Linked DNA regions of Homo sapiens. The protein of the gene in region 1 interacts with the protein of each later gene in a biochemical or structural test. Each region holds a gene or a part of one and is shown in the gene's direction. Other genes may lie near its edges. The genes, in order: ATF3, HDAC5 and HDAC4.

Region 1 (3,648 bases):
ACCCCTCGGGGTGTCCATCACAAAAGCCGAGGTGGGTTCTATCACAGGTATTCATTCTTTCGGCACATGTTTCGCTCGCAGCCACTGTGTGTTGGGCATGTTCTAGGCAGGGGGCTGTTGTTGAGAGTGAAACAAACAAAACCACTGCCCTCAGGGAGCTTACCTTCTCCTGGGAGGAGACAGAAGTACATAACATACGTAAGTACACGTTAAGAGATGAGTGCAAAGGAGAAAAAAGCAGGGAGCGGGGCAGAGAGAACGGGTAGGGATGGGGTTGCTGGGTTTAAAAACTTTTCAGGCCAGGCATGGTGGCCCACGCTTATAATCCCAGCACTTTGAGAGGCCAAGATGGGATTATCGCTTGAGTCCAGGAGTTTGAGACCAGCCTGGGCAACACAATGAAACCCAATCTCTATGACAGTATTAGCTGGGCAAGGTGGTACATGGCCTATAGTCTCATCTACTTGCGAGGCTGAGGTGGGAGGACCGCTTGAGCCCAGGAGGTTGAGGCTGCAATGAGCCGTGATCACCTCACTGCACTCCAGCCTGGGTGATGGAGCAAGACTCATTTTGCTTTTAGAGACAGTGTTGCTCCATCACCCAGGCTGGGGTGCAGTGGGGTGATCACGGCTCATTGTAGCCTCAGTCTCCTGGGCTCAAGCGATCCTCCTGCTTCAGCCTCCCAAAACACTGGGATCACAGGGATGAGCCATTGCACCCAGCCGGGGTTGCTGTTTTAAATTAGGAAGTCAGGTAAGGATTCACTGATAGTGACTTTTGAGCAGAGGTCAAAAGGAAAGGAAGAAGGAAAGAGGAGAGGGAAGAAGCCACGTGGGTATCTGGTAAAAGAAATTAAGGGCACTGAGGTGGAAGTATTGGTGCCTGGTGGGCTGTGCAGTGGGGCAGAGTATAGGGGTGGGAGATAAATAGGGGCTGGTCATATTGGGTCTTACAGATTATTATTGTATAGATGCAGCCCTGGGCTCAAAGTGAGGTGGGAAACCACAGAAGGCTTTTGAGCAGAGAAGCAACAAGATTCAACACACACACACACACACAGATACACACACACACTTTTTTTTTTGAGACAGAGTCTTGTTCTGTCACCCAGACTGGAGTGCAGTGGCATGATCTTGGCTCACTGCAACCTCTGCCTCCCAGGTTCAAGGGATTCTCATGCCTCAGTCTTCCAAATAGCTGGGATTACAGGTGCCCGCCACACGTCTGGCTAATTTTTGAATTTTTTTAGTAGAGACGGGGTTTCTCCATGTTGGCCAGGCTGGTCTCGAACTCCTGACCTCAGGTAATCCGCCCGCCTCGGCCTCCCAAAGTGCTGGGATTACAGGTGTGAGCCACCACGCCCAGCCTTGATTTATATTTTTAAATGATCACCCTGGCTGTCATGTTGAGAATGGGCAGTAGGGGTAAGACAGAAGCTGAGTGCACAGAAAGGAGGCCGTGGCAGGAATCCACGTGAGTCAGGGGGCCTGCAGCAGGAGGGAGCAGTGCAGGTGCTGAGAAGTGGTTGGCTTTGGATCTGACTTGAAGGTAAAGCTGATTTGCTGATAGATTGGATGTGGGGTGTAAGAGAAAGGGAAGACTCAAGGGTGACTGAGTTTTCTGGCCAGCATAGCTGTAAGAATGGAGCGTCCATTTGCTGCTGAGATTTGGGATTATAGGGGTTAGGGTGGTGGCAAGAGCAGGAGGTCTGTCCTATTCTGCAGACCCCTGTGGAGATGTCAAGCAGGCAGTTGGATATGTGAGTCTGGAGTTCAGAGGACAGTCTGGGCTAGAGATAATAGAGTTGGAAATTATCGGCATATAGATGGCACTTAAAGCCATGAGTCAGGATGAGGCCACCTTCTGTGTCCAGTTGTTCTGAAGAAGCTTGGAGCGTGGTGGTCCCTGTTTTTATCACTACTAGGACCCAAGCACCCAGACAGTAGAGCAAGGACCAGGCAGCCTGCCCCACCCTTCCCTGTAGCAATGTTCACAGCCTTGGGACCAGGTGTTGCTCCAGGTTCACTTCTGTCTGACACACTTGCACTGTTCCACGCTTGGCAACCTTGGGTAAGACTCCTGGAATAATAAACATGGTGAGAAGTCTGGGAGGTGGCTTCTGGCGATGCCATAGTGGCTTAAGGATGTCAGAGCTGAGGTTCCACCATTTTATTGGCCTTTTCCTCATGGTGGCAAGTGGAAGTGTTTCAGGCTTACTCAACTGGCATGATTGCAGCCTTTGGGCAAGGAGTAGTGGGACTGACCTAAAAGACTGTCCTAGTTCACCACTTGCAGGTGGCACCCCAGCATGGGCCGATTAATGCCGCTTTGGTTGGGAATGGGCTTAGGTGCCTTTTCTACAGGAGCATCATGGGCTTCTCCCAAATTTGGGAAGCTGGTGCTCTGATGCTCCAGGTGAAGTCAGAGGTGAATGGGGTTGCCCTTGGGTCTTGAATTGAAGAAGAGGCCGGGAGTGGGTGGCTAGGTAATGATCCTGAGATCATTCCTGGTTCTCAAAGAAAGGAGATGTTTACCAGACAGAATCTGTTTCGGCTTTAAATGATTATAGTTAATACCAATAGTTATCAATTTGCATATTATCCTCATCTCAAAATCCAAATGCATTTTTAAAATTGGCTAACTTTTAATTTACTAATATATTGCCGGTATAATTTTAACTTTGATTTTTGTTGTTCACTCACGTGTGTGTGTGTGCGTGTGTGTGTGTGTGTGTGTAGGGGTTTTCACACAAAAGTCTAGAGCTTTAGTATTTCGGGGTCTTTTAGCGCTAGCATTGCCCTTGTCTGCCAGCTTTTGCTGGCAGTAAAAGGCAGTGTATTTGAGGTAGGTGGCATTTCTTACTGCCCTTTAAATGTGTTTCTTTTGGATTTTACAGGTAGCCCCTGAAGAAGATGAAAGGAAAAAGAGGCGACGAGAAAGAAATAAGATTGCAGCTGCAAAGTGCCGAAACAAGAAGAAGGAGAAGACGGAGTGCCTGCAGAAAGTGAGTGCCTTCTAGCCTTACCCTTCCTCTCGCTCACGCCTGTCTTCACCAGCTTCATGTGGCTATCAGAAGAAGAGTTAGAAAACCCCCTACTTGGTTATAGTTTCCCAAGAAGGGCCTTGTAGCTGGTAGCAGAAATGCCAGTTGCAGAATGAGGAGGTGGCAAAGCAGTTAACACAATGGATGTGACGGTGGATGTATAAAAACAGGTGTGTGAATTCGTCTGATGCCTGACTCCCAGCAGCCTCGGCCGGTTCATACATGTCCATCAGCTTCCAGGCTGCAGGACATGCCAGCCCAGTTAAAGAGGCTTCACTTGACTGTTTTCCTGAGAAAAGGAAGCTGCCAGCTCTCATTTGGCTCACTATGAAAAGCCTTTAATTAATCTCTTCAAACAAGTTATTTCCTTAATCCACAAGCAGTGGTTACACTTGCTTTGCATTCTTGTCTGGTTCCTAACTCTAGAGCCCTTCTCCCTGGCTTAGCCAGTAAGCTGAGCCCCTGGCTGCGTTCAGCCGGCCCGCCTGAGAGACACTAGGGGAAATAGCTTTTGTGGGCAAGCAGGGTGGCCGGTGGTGCTCAGCAGTCTTTCCAGTGGCTGTGTCCCTCCTCCAAATGTGGACAGGCCATGACAGAGTCTTAGC
Region 2 (3,648 bases), on another chromosome or scaffold:
AACGAGGATGTCCATTTCTGTGAACAAAGGTGTTGTTGCGTGACTTACCCAAGGCCACTCAGCTGGGGATGTCGGCACTGGGTTTCAGACCAAGGCTTTTGGCCCCAGCACTCTGCTCTTGCTACCATGGGTGCTTCCCAAACCCTGCTCCTAATGGTGGAGGCAGAGGCACACACCACTCTCTGTGAGCTGGGGAAGTAGCCAGGACCAAGCCTCAGGAAGGACAAAATCTCTTGGAAGCCCAATTCTGGCTTAAAAATTCATGTAAATGTTGGATCCTCCTTCAGAATCTTACGTGCTTGTGGTTGGGCACAATGGCTCAAAGCCTGTAATCCCAGCATTTTGGGAGGCCAAGGTGGGTGAATCACTTGGGGTCAGGAGTTCGAGACCAGGATGGCCAACATGGTGAAACCCTGTCTCCACTGAAAATTCAAAAAAATTAGTTAGGTGTGGTGGCGGGAGCCTGTAATCCCACCTATTGGGGAGGCTGAGGCAGGAGAATTCCTTGAACCTGGGAAGTGGAGGTTGCAGTGAGTCAAGATCATGCCACTGCACTCCAGCCTCGATGACAGAGTGAGATTCTGTCTCAAAAAAAAAAAAAAAAGAAAGAAAAGAAAAAGGAAAACAAAAAAGGCCGGGTACAGTGACTCATGCCTGTAATCCCAGCACTTTGAGAGGCCGAGGTGGGTGGATCACCTGAGGTCAGGAGTTTGAGACCAGCCTGGCCAACATGGTGAAACCCCATCTCTACTAAAAATACAAAAAAAATTGGCCGGGCATAGTGGTGGGCGCCTGTAATCCCAGCTACTCGGGAGGCTGAGGCAGGAGAATCGCTTGAACCCGGGAGGTGGAGGTTGCAGTGAGCCCAGATCGTGCCACTGCACTCTAGCCTGGGCAACAAGAGTGAAACTTGGTCTCAAAAAAAAAAAAGAAAGAATCTCATCTGCCTGTTTTAAATTCCCTACTAGCCTTAATGTTTTCCCCAAAACTGTGAGGTGGAATGGGTTCTGTAGGGAGATATGCCACATTTATCCCATGGTTTTGAATATCACCTACACAGTGCCACCCCACAGAGGCTCAGACCTAGTTAGAGAAGTGTGGGGTGTGCAATACCATTGTGAACAGAATATGGATGCCCTGTGGCCAAGGGTGGAGTCCTGGGCTCAAGCGATCCTCCCAGCCCTCAGCCTCCCAAAATGCTAGGATTACAGGCATGAGCTACAGTGCTCAGCTGACAGGTGGAATTTGACCATTGGGTCAGAGCGCGGGCCATTTTCCCGATGCTTCTACCTCCCCTCATAGGACATTCACCATGGCAATGGCACCCAGCAGGCGTTCTACAATGACCCCTCTGTGCTCTACATCTCTCTGCATCGCTATGACAACGGGAACTTCTTTCCAGGCTCTGGGGCTCCTGAAGAGGTACAGCTCCTGGGCGTAAATGCAGACCCTCCTGGCCCCTCTGGGAGGTGGCACAATGGGACCTGGCGGGGAGCCACGGAGGCCCATGGTGGTGTTGGTACCTGGGGAGTCTGGGCTCCTAGTGGGAGGACCACACTGATCTGACTGCCCCTCCAGGCAGAGCAGAGGTCAGTGGAGTGAGATCTGGAGGCAGGGGTGAGGGCAGGGGCAATGTTTGGGACTCCCAGGTGGTGAGAATAGCCCTCTCCCCAACTCTGGTGCCAGGTTGGTGGAGGACCAGGCGTGGGGTACAATGTGAACGTGGCATGGACAGGAGGTGTGGACCCCCCCATTGGAGACGTGGAGTACCTTACAGCCTTCAGGTAGGGACTGAAAAGGGCCATGGTAGTCAGTGGGAGCCCCTCTGGGCCCTGCAGTGGGAGGGGCAGAAGGCACTCAGTTCAGTGTGGGTAGAGGGGGTTGTCTCTGGGAGGATAACAGTGGGGCGAGGCCTGGCCTGGTCATCTGCCGGGCTCAGCTTGAGCCATCCCTTTGCAGGACAGTGGTGATGCCCATTGCCCACGAGTTCTCACCTGATGTGGTCCTAGTCTCCGCCGGGTTTGATGCTGTTGAAGGACATCTGTCTCCTCTGGGTGGCTACTCTGTCACCGCCAGATGTAAGCCTGCTGGGGGATTGAGGGAGGAAGTGAAACAGTGAGGATATCGAGTCCAGTGAGGCATGGGGCAGGGAACAGACTGATATTGCAGCAGACGGGGAAAGCAGGGGGCAGGGCCTAGACTTGGAATCATCTTGGTAACTCCCCCAACTTGTCCTCTGCCAACCCCGGCCTTGAGGGGATAGGAGGTGGCAGTGGGGTAGCAGAGGATAGAGGATGTATCCTGCCGGAGCTGTAGAGATGGGCTTGTTGGTCCCTGGTGTTTCAGTGATGCTCCTTGTCATTGGATTGGAGTCTTCAGCCAGTCTGTTAATGTTTTGACTGTGATAGGGCATTTAGTTCACTGATGCTGTATTTTATTATGGATATATTTGGGTTTATATCTCCCATCACATTTTGTGCTATTTGTCCCACCTCTTGTGTTTCTTTTTCTCTCCTTTTCTTTCTTTTTTTTTTTTTTTTTTTTTGAGGTGGAGTCTCACTCTGTCACCCAGGCTGGAGTGCAATGGCGTGATCTCGGCTCACTGCAACCTCCGCCTCCTGGGTTCATGCCATCCTCCTGCCTCAGCCTCCCAAGTAGCTGGGATTACAGGCGCGTGCCACCATGGCCGGCTAATTATTGTATTTTTAGTAGAGACGGGGTTTCACCATGTTGGTCAGGCTGGTCTCGAACTCCTGACCTTGTGATCTGCCCGCCTTGGCCTCCCAAAGTGCTGGGATTACAGGCGTGAGCCACCGCGCCTGGCCTTTTTTCTCTCCTCTTACTGGCTCTTGAATTGATTGATTACCTTTCGCCATTTCTTCTTCCTCCCTTCACCCATCCTCAAAGGTTTTGGCCACTTGACCAGGCAGCTGATGACCCTGGCAGGGGGCCGGGTGGTGCTGGCCCTGGAGGGAGGCCATGACTTGACCGCCATCTGTGATGCCTCTGAGGCTTGTGTCTCGGCTCTGCTCAGTGTAGAGGTAAGGGGTGGGAAGGAGCTGGGAGGTGGCAGGCCAGAGGTCTGAGGGGCCAGCAAGGGGTCAGCCAGCACTGGGAGCCCCTTAGGAAGCTTTTCCTTGGTCCTAAGGAACAGCTAATGGCCAGGCTTTCTGAGTATGCGTTTGTCCAAAAAGGCCATGTTTGCCCCTGTTGTGAGGGATATCTGGGGCTGAGTGGGGCAGTTAGAGGGGTATGCATGGCAACCCTACTCCCCACCCTAAGCCTTCTCTTCTTTCCCCTGCCAGCTGCAGCCCTTGGATGAGGCAGTCTTGCAGCAAAAGCCCAACATCAACGCAGTGGCCACGCTAGAGAAAGTCATCGAGATCCAGAGTGCGTGAGGACACGTAGAGGGGCTCAGGCTGCCAAGGGGGCACGGAGCTTGTGGGAGCACCAGGACTGGGACTGTTCATGTGGGTGTCCTCTGCCCTCCCTGACCCCTTGCCTGTCTCTCGTCCACAGGCAAACACTGGAGCTGTGTGCAGAAGTTCGCCGCTGGTCTGGGCCGGTCCCTGCGAGAGGCCCAAGCAGGTGAGACCGAGGAGGCCGAGACTGTGAGCGCCATGGCCTTGCTGTCGGTGGGGGCCGAGC
Region 3 (3,648 bases), on another chromosome or scaffold:
TCCAAGCCTTCATGCACATATGTACCTAATGAGTTTTTATAGCAAAGAATATAAATTTGCTGTTGATTTTTGTATGAATTTTTTCACAAAAAGATCCTGAATAAGCATTGTTTTATGAATTTTACATTTTTCCTCACCATTTAGCAATTTTCTGAATGGTAATAATGTCTAAATCTTTTTCCTTTCTGAATTCTTGCTTGTACATTTTTTTTTACCTTTCAAAGGTTTTTAATTATTTTTGTTTTTATTTTTGTACGATGAGTTTTCTGCAGCGTACAGAATTGTTGCTGTCAGATTCTATTTTCAGAAAGTGAGAGGAGGGACCGTAGGTCTTTTCGGAGTGACACCAACGATTGTGTCTTTCCTGGTCTGTCCTAGGAGCTGTATAAAGAAGCCCAGGGGCTCTTTTTAACTTTCAACACTAGTAGTATTACGAGGGGTGGTGTGTTTTTCCCCTCCGTGGCAAGGGCAGGGAGGGTTGCTTAGGATGCCCGGCCACCCTGGGAGGCTTGCCAGATGCCGGGGGCAGTCAGCATTAATGAAACTCATGTTTAAACTTCTCTGACCACATCGTCAGGATAGAATTCTAACTTGAGTTTTCCAAAGACCTTTTGAGCATGTCAGCAATGCATGGGGCACACGTGGGGCTCTTTACCCACTTGGGTTTTTCCACTGCAGCCACGTGGCCAGCCCTGGATTTTGGAGCCTGTGGCTGCAAGGAACCCAGGGACCCTTGTTGCCTGGTGAACCTGCAGGGAGGGTATGATTGCCTGACCAGGACAGCCAGTCTTTACTCTTTTTCTCTTCAACAGTAACTGACAGTCACGTTTTACTGGTAACTTATTTTCCAGCACATGAAGCCACCAGTTTCATTCCAAAGTGTATATTGGGTTCAGACTTGGGGGCAGAAGTTCAGACACACCGTGCTCAGGAGGGACCCAGAGCCGAGTTTCGGAGTTTGGTAAAGTTTACAGGGTAGCTTCTGAAATTAACTCAAACTTTTGACCAAATGAGTGCAGATTCTTGGATTCACTTGGTCACTGGGCTGCTGATGGTCAGCTCTGAGACAGTGGTTTGAGAGCAGGCAGAACGGTCTTGGGACTTGTTTGACTTTCCCCTCCCTGGTGGCCACTCTTTGCTCTGAAGCCCAGATTGGCAAGAGGAGCTGGTCCATTCCCCATTCATGGCACAGAGCAGTGGCAGGGCCCAGCTAGCAGGCTCTTCTGGCCTCCTTGGCCTCATTCTCTGCATAGCCCTCTGGGGATCCTGCCACCTGCCCTCTTACCCCGCCGTGGCTTATGGGGAGGAATGCATCATCTCACTTTTTTTTTTTAAGCAGATGATGGGATAACATGGACTGCTCAGTGGCCAGGTTATCAGTGGGGGGACTTAATTCTAATCTCATTCAAATGGAGACGCCCTCTGCAAAGGCCTGGCAGGGGGAGGCACGTTTCATCTGTCAGCTCACTCCAGCTTCACAAATGTGCTGAGAGCATTACTGTGTAGCCTTTTCTTTGAAGACACACTCGGCTCTTCTCCACAGCAAGCGTCCAGGGCAGATGGCAGAGGATCTGCCTCGGCGTCTGCAGGCGGGACCACGTCAGGGAGGGTTCCTTCATGTGTTCTCCCTGTGGGTCCTTGGACCTTTAGCCTTTTTCTTCCTTTGCAAAGGCCTTGGGGGCACTGGCTGGGAGTCAGCAAGCGAGCACTTTATATCCCTTTGAGGGAAACCCTGATGACGCCACTGGGCCTCTTGGCGTCTGCCCTGCCCTCGCGGCTTCCCGCCGTGCCGCAGCGTGCCCACGTGCCCACGCCCCACCAGCAGGCGGCTGTCCCGGAGGCCGTGGCCCGCTGGGACTGGCCGCCCCTCCCCAGCGTCCCAGGGCTCTGGTTCTGGAGGGCCACTTTGTCAAGGTGTTTCAGTTTTTCTTTACTTCTTTTGAAAATCTGTTTGCAAGGGGAAGGACCATTTCGTAATGGTCTGACACAAAAGCAAGTTTGATTTTTGCAGCACTAGCAATGGACTTTGTTGTTTTTCTTTTTGATCAGAACATTCCTTCTTTACTGGTCACAGCCACGTGCTCATTCCATTCTTCTTTTTGTAGACTTTGGGCCCACGTGTTTTATGGGCATTGATACATATATAAATATATAGATATAAATATATATGAATATATTTTTTTAAGTTTCCTACACCTGGAGGTTGCATGGACTGTACGACCGGCATGACTTTATATTGTATACAGATTTTGCACGCCAAACTCGGCAGCTTTGGGGAAGAAGAAAAATGCCTTTCTGTTCCCCTCTCATGACATTTGCAGATACAAAAGATGGAAATTTTTCTGTAAAACAAAACCTTGAAGGAGAGGAGGGCGGGGAAGTTTGCGTCTTATTGAACTTATTCTTAAGAAATTGTACTTTTTATTGTAAGAAAAATAAAAAGGACTACTTAAACATTTGTCATATTAAGAAAAAAAGTTTATCTAGCACTTGTGACATACCAATAATAGAGTTTATTGTATTTATGTGGAAACAGTGTTTTAGGGAAACTACTCAGAATTCACAGTGAACTGCCTGTCTCTCTCGAGTTGATTTGGAGGAATTTTGTTTTGTTTTGTTTTGTTTGTTTCCTTTTATCTCCTTCCACGGGCCAGGCGAGCGCCGCCCGCCCTCACTGGCCTTGTGACGGTTTATTCTGATTGAGAACTGGGCGGACTCGAAAGAGTCCCCTTTTCCGCACAGCTGTGTTGACTTTTTAATTACTTTTAGGTGATGTATGGCTAAGATTTCACTTTAAGCAGTCGTGAACTGTGCGAGCACTGTGGTTTACAATTATACTTTGCATCGAAAGGAAACCATTTCTTCATTGTAACGAAGCTGAGCGTGTTCTTAGCTCGGCCTCACTTTGTCTCTGGCATTGATTAAAAGTCTGCTATTGAAAGAAAAAGAAAGCGAACAGTTTTTGTTTGTTTTTTTTGCCGTGTGTGCTCCATAGTGGAGGCGCTATTTTCCAATTGATGAGAATGACAAACATATATAATCTATCTATCTATCTATCTATCTATCTATCTATACAGGGGGCTTGAACCTTACTCACCCAAGAGCTTCTTACGGAATGTGGTAGAAAACCAAGTTGTAACGACACTGTAACCTACCTGATGCCTGTTCGCGCCCGCCGTGAGCTGCGCACTGGCCGTGGCCACCATTCACCTCTGTAATTTAATCCGTTTCTCTTGGATTGTCTGGACGTGCCCGATGGTTCTTTCTTTTGCTCAGTGGAGTTGGAGGTTTTGTGTTTGGTTTTCTCATTCTTGTCTTGTTTTGTGTGGGTGGATTTTCACCGACCAATGATATCCTCTTCTGACGGTCACCTTCTTTCCACTTCACTGGAGTCCAGTATTCTGTACCACATCACGCAACGTGTTATCTTGTGGTGTAAATAAAGACTGCGTTACTTGCCCTCCCAGCTCTGGTTTCTGCCCGTGCGCTCTCTTCCTCATTGGCTCTCGCATGTCTGGGACCCTGTGGGCCGAATGGCCAGTGCCCTGGGTCCCATCCGGATGGCTGCATGGGAATCACTGGACCCCATGGGGACGGCCCCTAGACCCAGACCAGCGGCAGGCCCGTCCCCCTCTGCCTGCATAATCA

The links.
Region 2: the proteins of ATF3 (region 1) and HDAC5 form a complex in vitro, tested with the Homo sapiens proteins (one study listed by BioGRID).
Region 3: the proteins of ATF3 (region 1) and HDAC4 form a complex in vitro, tested with the Homo sapiens proteins (one study listed by BioGRID).

Annotation. Positions count from the first base shown.
Region 1 is NC_000001.11:212,615,231-212,618,878, forward strand, and holds part of ATF3 (cyclic AMP-dependent transcription factor ATF-3), read left to right. Parts: coding exon 1-31; intron 32-2,896; coding exon 2,897-3,004; intron 3,005-3,648.
Region 2 is NC_000017.11:44,078,537-44,082,184, reverse strand, and holds part of HDAC5 (histone deacetylase 5), read left to right. Parts: intron 1-1,302; coding exon 1,303-1,422; intron 1,423-1,686; coding exon 1,687-1,784; intron 1,785-1,959; coding exon 1,960-2,078; intron 2,079-2,907; coding exon 2,908-3,041; intron 3,042-3,305; coding exon 3,306-3,390; intron 3,391-3,519; coding exon 3,520-3,648. UniProt on the Homo sapiens protein: Responsible for the deacetylation of lysine residues on the N-terminal part of the core histones (H2A, H2B, H3 and H4).
Region 3 is NC_000002.12:239,047,986-239,051,633, reverse strand, and holds the end of HDAC4 (histone deacetylase 4), read left to right. Parts: 3' UTR 1-3,466; downstream 3,467-3,648. UniProt on the Homo sapiens protein: Responsible for the deacetylation of lysine residues on the N-terminal part of the core histones (H2A, H2B, H3 and H4).